Linked DNA regions of Homo sapiens: all the other regions are linked to region 1. The links come from fine-mapping of genetic effects on gene expression. A gene starts in region 1. Each other region holds a variant in brackets. All regions are shown on one strand. Distances are from middle to middle.

Region 1 (2,765 bases):
TAAATTTGAAGACAGAACTGAGAAATGACATTATAAAAACTAAAAACGGGAGAACGAGATTTTTAATGTATTTACTAAATAGTGAATCAGTTCAGATACATAATAGAAAAGGAATTTCTTGATTAATGGGTCAACATACTGAGATCTGATGGCCTTCAACCTCCTTGGGTCTGCCCACCCCATTTTTGACGCTCCTTAAACTTCTTCAACTTTTGTCTTCTCCAGCTTTTAGTTGCTGTGATCCTCTATCTGGCAATGTATCCAGTGAACCCTGTGGGCTTCTTCCTTCCTGTCCCTCGTGTTACCTGTTCTGTGCTACCTGTGTTGCGTTCTGCTCAACGAACCCTCCTTTGGGTGGCACTCTTGTCCTGCCTAGCCCTAGTTCTGCTAGAGATGCTCAATTAGTTGTTGAGTTGAAGAATTGAATTGAACTGTTTCCCTCAGATTCCTCTAAACACAAATCCACTTATTCTTTCTGTCTTTGAAATTCTCAAAACCGCTAAGACACAGCTATTTTGAAAATAGCCAGCATTGGTTGAAGCTAGGGTGAATATGGCTTTTGACTCAGAGAGGTTGTTCAACTCACCAGGAAAGGGAAGCATTGCAAGTTCCTAAGCACTTCTGGACTCTTAATGCATTTTCACTCGTGAAAGTTTCAAGCAAGAAAAAAATAAAGTAGTGCCCCGAGTTCTTTATTAGATTCAATTACCAGCGTACAAACATCCTAATTCACTTAAACAAAATAGCCCACACACATTCCATTTCCAAGGAGGCTGCTTTTCTTCCTCTCTTCCCTTCTCGCTCTCCCTCTTACTGTTTTTCCTCCGTCTTGCTTCTCCTTTTCTCCCCTTATCCTAGTTATCTCAAAGAAAAGCTTATCTGCAACCACCCTTTAACCACGAATTACCATAAACGAAGCAACCCCCCCACCCCCCCATAAGCGAAAGCAAAGCCCTCAGTGGAGCCTGTCGGGGTGGTGGGGACGCCCCCTTTCGTGCAAAACGACTTCACGGTGAATTTCAAGTGTCCGCAGGGGATGGAAGGGGGGATTCCAGATCCTCGCATTTTCACAGACGGCCTAATCCCTCTGCGCAATGGACCCGGGAAAGCTGCCTCCCGTTAAGGGCGCCCAGGCACTGTCAAAGCGCCCTCCCTGCCCGGGCCGGGAGAAGTAAGGGGTGTGAAGGCGGAGCCACTGGGCTGGCAACACCCTCCCGAAGGTCCAGCCCTTACCCGCCTTCCTACCACCTTAGGGGATTTGGCCCGGAGAACGAGATCACCCTCTCAATGAAAGGCAGATGTCCCTTTAAGGTTTGCTTCTACAGCCCGTGGACTTTAGCCTAAACACGGACCCGCGAAGCTGGCTTTATTTGTCCATGTCTCGGACAGAGCCTGGGAAGCTGCCAGTGAGATTTCAGAGACCAAGAGCGCGAAGGGGCGGGCGATGTGGCAATCCGTCTGGGATGTGAAAAGCGTGGAGCGCATTTAGAGGAATTCGACGAAAACACAGGAAATCACTCCTCTCCCGCTCCTGGGCGCCGCTGCCACTGGGGCAGAGGACTGGGAACCGCGGCAGCGGGATAAGTGGCCCAGCCAGAGAGCGCAGCTCCCGCGCCCGGTCCTGCCCTGCGAACCAGCGCGGCCCCCTGGCGCTGAGGCTGCTCCGGCCATGGCCCCTCGGCCCCGCGCCCGCCCAGGGGTCGCTGTCGCCTGCTGCTGGCTCCTCACTGGTGAGCGACTCGCTTTTCTCTGAGCATCTCCTGCTCGCGGGCTTGGGGCTTGGAGCGGGGAGGGAGGTCCTCAGAGCCATGGGCCAGATAGGAAGAGAGAGCGCCCATCCACTTTCGGGCATTCCAGGTACTCAGGCCAGGCTACGGGGCAGGCAGGAGTTTCGCGTTCTGGTTTTGATATGAATTAGTTTTCGTGTCTCTCCAAAGTCCTTCACCCTAGGAGTAGGAGTGAGGCAGCACTGAAAACCTTAGAAGGTAGAATTCACTTTTAAAATTAAAGTTGTTTTTACAATACACATTGTATATTAGGACTTTGCTGAATATTTCCTCCCCTCCACCCTTTTTTATGGCATGGGATGGGAGGGTGATGCTTATAGGGCGCCTGATACATATGCAAAATTCCTACCCTCGGGTTGTTCCAGAGTGGACATTATTGAATTTTCTTGCTGTCTACTATTTAGGCTTTTTTCCCATGCAGAACAAGAAAAGGCAGGGATGCAAGACGAAACTGCCACTTGTTCCAAAATGATGTTTCTATGTCAGCACCCAAGAGGAGGGATATTTTGAAACGTAGAAAGGAATGGTGAACATTTTCTCTGTAAATATCACAGGGCAGTCTACTTTTAAGATGCAAAATATAGTATTGTTATTTGTACATAAATGTGTATTTTTAAGGAGGGGACTTAAAAACATAGTGGAAATGCAAAGTTGTATCCAATTTAGAAAAAGCTTGAAATATAGCATTTTGTAAGATTTTCCCAATAATGAACTCATGGTCAGATCTTTTTTACCAGTTACTGATTGGGGTGGGGGAAAGTTGAAATGGTGAAAAATGGAAGAAGGTGGGGGGAAAGTGTATCGATAGAATCTCTGTGTGAAAGAAAATCACCTTATTAATGGGTTAATTAACAGCTGGCTTTAACATATCATTGATATTCAATTGTTCAGTGTTTTTACTGCTGGCATGGTTATTAGTACTAGTTAATTTAGCATTTTTACCACTAAAAACAGGGTAGAGCCAGCTAGTTTAGACCT
Region 2 (2,765 bases), 35 kb after region 1:
CTCTCCTCACCCCATTCCGTGTGAAGATGGCCCCACTGATATTCATAAAAAATAAGAATATTCCCTCCCAATGAATGTTGCTATAAGGAAATTTGCTCATACAGAATTGGTAAATGGAAAAATGATGTCACTATAATACATAAGTCACTATAATTCAGTTTTCCCTAGCACCTTAATGTTTATACTACCAATGCCACCACTTGAATGCCAAATACACTAAGAGTTGGACACAGTAAGCATATACTCATACAGTATTGTAAGGAATTCCCATTCTCCTTGTATTCTTCCTCTTTGCCTAGTTTTGCTGTGTGTGATTTCTTGGAAGGGCTTATATAATTGGCCCCAAACTTAGTTCATTTTGCCCTTGTCCCCACAACTATTCAGCCTTAACATTTTCTTACTTCATTCCACTGTAATCATTTATTTAGTATAGAATTTATTAGGAATCTAAATGCCTTTAAAATTATGCTAGTATTTTTATTTGAGTTGTTTCGACTTTATGTTTTAGCTAAAAAGGTGTATGGACTTTGAGTTGACTGCCCCAACTCTGTTTTTATCATAAGCTGTATGATTTTTATGTGTGATTTTGTAGAAAACACAAGATTGCTTTTAGGAATGAATATATCACATTATAATAGAAATATCTGTTTTCTTGCAACTTAAATTGCATATATTTTATGAATGGAAGAATGTCAACAACAAAATTGGCAATGGGACTATTTGAGAATTTGCCATGTGGAGGCCGTTTCCTGACCTTTTATCCTTTATATGCTAGAGTGCTTTAGAGTTTCCAAATGGTGTTCATATGTGGAATTTTATGTCAATCCTTGAACAATACTACAAGGATCATTATTAACATTTCTACTTGATAGACTTGGAAATCAAGGCTCAGAGGAGACAAATGTTTTGCCTACAGTAGATTGGTGACAACATTCTGGCTATAATTAGTTACTCTATTCAAATAAACATATTTGAGCTTCGATTTTACTTAGGGCACTGGGGATACAAAGATAATTAAAATGAAACTCAGTCCTCATCCAACCAGTTGCCTCTCTTCTTCCTCCCACTGATTCAGGGACACTTCCGTTTGGACTGGGCAGAGCTAGACAATCTCAAACTCATAGAGGCATCTGCATTGCTAGTTTCCTAGAAGAGCTGGAGGCTGAGTATCCGGACTGCTCTGCATAGGGGATATGGGACACTTAGGTGGCTCCTGGCCAAGTGGCCCAAGCCTGTTGCTGACTGGAAGTCTGTCACTTGGCTCTCCTCCCTCGCCAGTTCGTATTGTAGCCT[C/T]TACCCTTGACACTGTCTCACCCAGTGGAAACACAGCTGCAAGAGCTGCAGAAGGCCTATTACTTCTAATCTTTCTGCTTCGTATGATCGGTAATTACACCCCAGGGACACATAATGAAGATGGTTCATCACTGCTTTTTATGTGCTTCATAGTGTGAGATAGTGGACTGGGAACTTGAATCAGAGCAAGAAAATTGTTTTCTGCTCTAGGTTTGGTCACTTAAACTAGCCACAGTATATTAGGCAAAATATTTCAACTGCTTGGGCATCAGTGTTCTCATCATTTGAGGACACTGTCTCATTAGATGGTCGAATAGGGACTTTTCCAGCTATAGCCTTCTGAGATTCCTCAAGGACACATCGAGTTTGTATTGCATGGTCAAAAGAGGGCTCCAAGGAACCAGGTCTAACAAGCTTTAAGGTGAGTGAGTTCTCTCAATGGTGCCCCGACTTTCCTGACATCCTTCTGAATCTTAGACAAGCCTCGGAGAGAGATACTCATGGAATGACCAAAATGGTAGCACCAGATCTGTATGAGGTATTTAATCATTTTATTTTATTTTAATTTTTAGACAGAGTTTTGCTCTGTTGCCCAGGCTGGAGTGCAGTGGTACGATATTGGCTCACTGCAACCTCCGCCTCCCGGGTTCAAGCAATTCTCCTGCCTCAGCCTCCCGAGTAGCTGGGATTATAGGCTTGCGCCACCATGCCCAGCTAATTTTTGTATTTTTTAGTAGAGATGGGGTTTTGCTCTGTTGACCAGGCTGGTCTCAAACTCCTGGCCTTAAGTGATCCACCCACCTCAGTCTCCCAAAGTGCTGGGATTGCAGGTGTGAGCCATGGCACCTATCCAAATCATTTTAAATGGTGATGATTATGTCCAATAAGTCCATCTTATTCTCTTGGGCATCTCAACCTTTTCCTGCCTTAGGAAAATGGAGGTCCTCTAACTCCTAAGATCTTGTCACATGATCCTGCTGTAGGCAGAACCCACACCAGTTAAATGTTTATTTACTTGATCAATGTTTAGCCTGTGGTTGGCTTTTAAATATCCCAACGGAGACTGAGAAAGCAGTGCAGAGAGTGCTAAAATACAGACAAAGGAAAAGAAAGAATTGGAAACTAGGAGAAAACAAGGAAAAAAGAAGGGGAAAGTGCTTTCAGCATTTCTTTTCAACTTCCTCTACATGCTTAGAAAACAGAATTGACTTTTGTATGTCTGTGGTAGCTTTACAAATAAATTAAACATATTATCAACGTTTGCCAATTTATTTTACAAGTATACGGAATATCATTAGCACATTCTGGTGATAGTATGTCAGATATTTAAAGAGCTCTAGCTTGAAGAAAATGGGCCTTACTTTAAGAGTGCTATATTTGTTTTATGTTCTCATACTTAATGATCTGGGACCTAATTTTCTTCAGCCCTGATTATGCTTTGTTTCATGACCTTTAATATATATATATAGTAA
Region 3 (2,765 bases), 45 kb after region 1:
ACGAAATCTTGGCTCACTGCAACCTCTGCCTCCTGGGTTCAAGCGATTCTCATGCCTCAGTCTCCCGAGTAGCTGGGATTACAGACGTGCACCACCACACCTCGGCTAATTTTTGTATTTTTAGTAGAGATGGGGTTTCACCATGTTGGCCAGGCTGGTCTCGAACTCCTGACCTCAAGTGATCTGCCCACCTCAGCCTCCCAAAGTGCTGGGATTACAGGAGTGAGCCACTGCACCCAGCCAGAAAGTCACACAGAGGGTTACCCAAACTAAGTCTCAAGATACCTGTTTCTAATGACTTTTAGATAGCATAGACCTCTTTATTGATTAAATAGGAAAGAGAAAAGAAAAAAAAACTCTAGAATTTTTAGGATTCATAAAATTGGCATCACAATAACAGTAATCACTTATGGCTCCTAAGAATTTTTTCTTTTTTTTTTTTAACCTTAAAGATTAGTTAATTTAATTACATCTTAAATACATCTCGCAAGTGACTACAAATTCTTTGAGGGCAGAGACAATATATTTTTTTTACCTTTTAATCCCTTAAAGACCTTCTACCTTTCCTTTCACATGGGACTTTTATTAATGTCCGCTGAATGAATATAACATATTCATAATATAGTCATGTCTATACATTGATTAACATATTTGTTATCAACTGCAGAGTAGGCCCAGTCTTTCTCTTTTACTCTCTGTCCTTTTAAGAATTTTAAGAGCTTTTTGGGGAAAATAAAGTAAGAAGAAAACAATGAGTCATGTCTTTGTAGCCATCTAGATTTCTTAGCTCTGTTGCCTCATTCTTCCTCCTCATTCTTCCCCCAGCCACGGTGGAGAAATAAAGTTGTCTGGGGGCTCATTACTGGACTACCCAATCTCAGTTCCCTTCTGTACTTTAGAACTCTCTCCTTCCCTCATCTTGATTTCACTAGGCCACACTATAACCCTGCTTCCTGGAGAGAATCAGACCCATGTAAGCTCTTGAGCCTCCTGTTCCATGGATCTCTCCACCAAGACAAGAGCCTACTCCAGGCTGCCAACCTGAGATTAGAGAGTTCATACTCTGATTGGTCCCCATAGAATTAATCAACGGTGGCCAAGAGTGTAGGTAACTAGATGGCTCATTCAGATCTGATACTCATTCCTGGACTTGTCAGCTGTGGCCTGGGTGGCAGAGTCACTTAAAAACATTGCAGCATCTTCAGAAATCTTTGGTTGGAGTAGAATAGATGCCAAAAAAGGTAGTTGTTGGCTTCTGATGAAATGGAAGGGTCAAATTAAATAATAGCTGAGGTCTCATCCCTTCTACCCATAAGAT[T/C]CTATGATTTATCACTAAAACAATCACATATTAGGAGGTCATAAATAATTCTACACAAGTTCTTCTAATCTCCATATTTTCTTACACCTATGGTCAAATACATCTCTCTTGCAAGAATTATATAACCAAATATTACATACACTATGTTAGAATAAAGAATGAACACTATCACTAGAACTTGGAAGCAGATTTAAATACTGAAAAATATTATAGGTATCGAAAAGACCCTTTTTATTCTGGCAGAAATATATAAATCTGTGTGTGTGTGTGTGTGTGTGTGTGTGTGTGTGTGTGTGTGTGTGTCTTCTGGTGCTATTTCTCAAAAGAGTTTTTTTTTGGTAGATTTTTTTTGGTTACTTTTTTATTTCATTTTGTTAAGCCATCAAAAGCTTTGAGATTGGGCTGGGCATGATGGCTCATACCTGTAATCCCAGCACTTTGGGAAGCCAAGGTGTGTAGATCATTTGAGTTCAAGAGCTCGAGACCAGCCTGGCCAACATGGTGAAAACCCATCTCTACTAAAAATACAAAAATTAGCTGGGCATGGTGGTACACACTTTTAATCCCAGCTACTTGGGAGGCTGATGTGGGAGGATCACTTGAACCCAGGATGTGGAGGCTGCAGTGAGCCAAGATAGTGCCACTGCACTCCAACCTGAGTGACGGACCGAGACTCTGTCTCAAAAAAAAAAAAATGCTTTGAAATTAGCCTTTACCTGTGTGTACTACAATTTAAAAGGCCATCTTTGAAAAGACAGTAAAACAGACTTTTACTATGAAAAGCTACCATCTGGAACCCTTAGTAAACTGACTGTTGTCTCATAAAGAGTACAACCAAGCCTAATGCAACTTAATTGTTCACACAGTTATGTAAGATGTACTTCTTCTATAACTCTACAGGACTTAAAAGAACTCATAATACTATATGATTGTATTATGGGTTCCATAAAACATTATGACAATGTATTTTCTGGAAAAATGTTTCCTAGTGAACATGCATACCCCAGACATTTTACCTTTCTCTTAAATTATTCCATCTGATTTTACTACCTTGCTCTTGCTAGAGTTAAGAGTTTTCTGAAAGCTTATTCAGTGTTAACTAATGTTACTTTTCCTGGGCCATTTTTGTTGGTATTGAGTTTTTTCTTTATGTGATCATAAAGTTATAGTTTAGAACAAGGTTATTTTGTTGCAAGAGTCTATTTAGGTGTAATATTTTTTAAGCAAATTGAAGTTGTTCTGATAAATGTTTATCTAAATTAAAATATAACTCCATAAACTATGATGTGGCCATTTAAAGGGGAGGTATATTAACTTTGTGGAATTGTGCCATTAAAGACAAAGAAAAAGAAAAAAGAAAAGCAGTTGGCTGGATGAAGTAGTATAGAATTGCAAACTTACATGAGATAATAATTAGAATCAATAAGACACCTAATGGAAAAAGAAT

The links. PIP is the estimated chance that this variant, and not a neighbour inherited with it, causes the effect. A credible set is the group of variants that fine-mapping cannot tell apart.
Region 2: its variant is the best candidate, but not a certain one, in a credible set for the expression of PELO in platelets (CEDAR, PIP 0.87).
Region 3: its variant is the best candidate, but not a certain one, in a credible set for the expression of PELO in whole blood (TOPMed, PIP 0.50).

What each region holds. Positions count from the first base shown.
Region 1 is chr5:52,786,685-52,789,449 of GRCh38, forward strand. PELO (pelota mRNA surveillance and ribosome rescue factor) reads left to right here and starts at 1,232. Exons shown (of 3, transcript NM_015946.5): 1 at 1,232-1,730. It overlaps ITGA1 (integrin subunit alpha 1), which reads left to right and starts at 1,232. Exons shown (of 29, transcript NM_181501.2): 1 at 1,232-1,730. The coding sequence starts at 1,670. All of the region lies in intron 1 of PELO-AS1 (PELO antisense RNA 1), which reads right to left. RefSeq lists an enhancer at 920-1,199.
Region 2 is chr5:52,821,361-52,824,125 of GRCh38, forward strand. All of the region lies in intron 1 of ITGA1 (integrin subunit alpha 1), which reads left to right. Among named protein-coding and RNA genes, the nearest start is that of PELO-AS1, 22 kb to the left of the region's middle. The variant C/T (reference allele first, on the strand shown) is at 1,294.
Region 3 is chr5:52,831,192-52,833,956 of GRCh38, forward strand. All of the region lies in intron 1 of ITGA1 (integrin subunit alpha 1), which reads left to right. Among named protein-coding and RNA genes, the nearest start is that of PELO-AS1, 32 kb to the left of the region's middle. The variant T/C (reference allele first, on the strand shown) is at 1,319.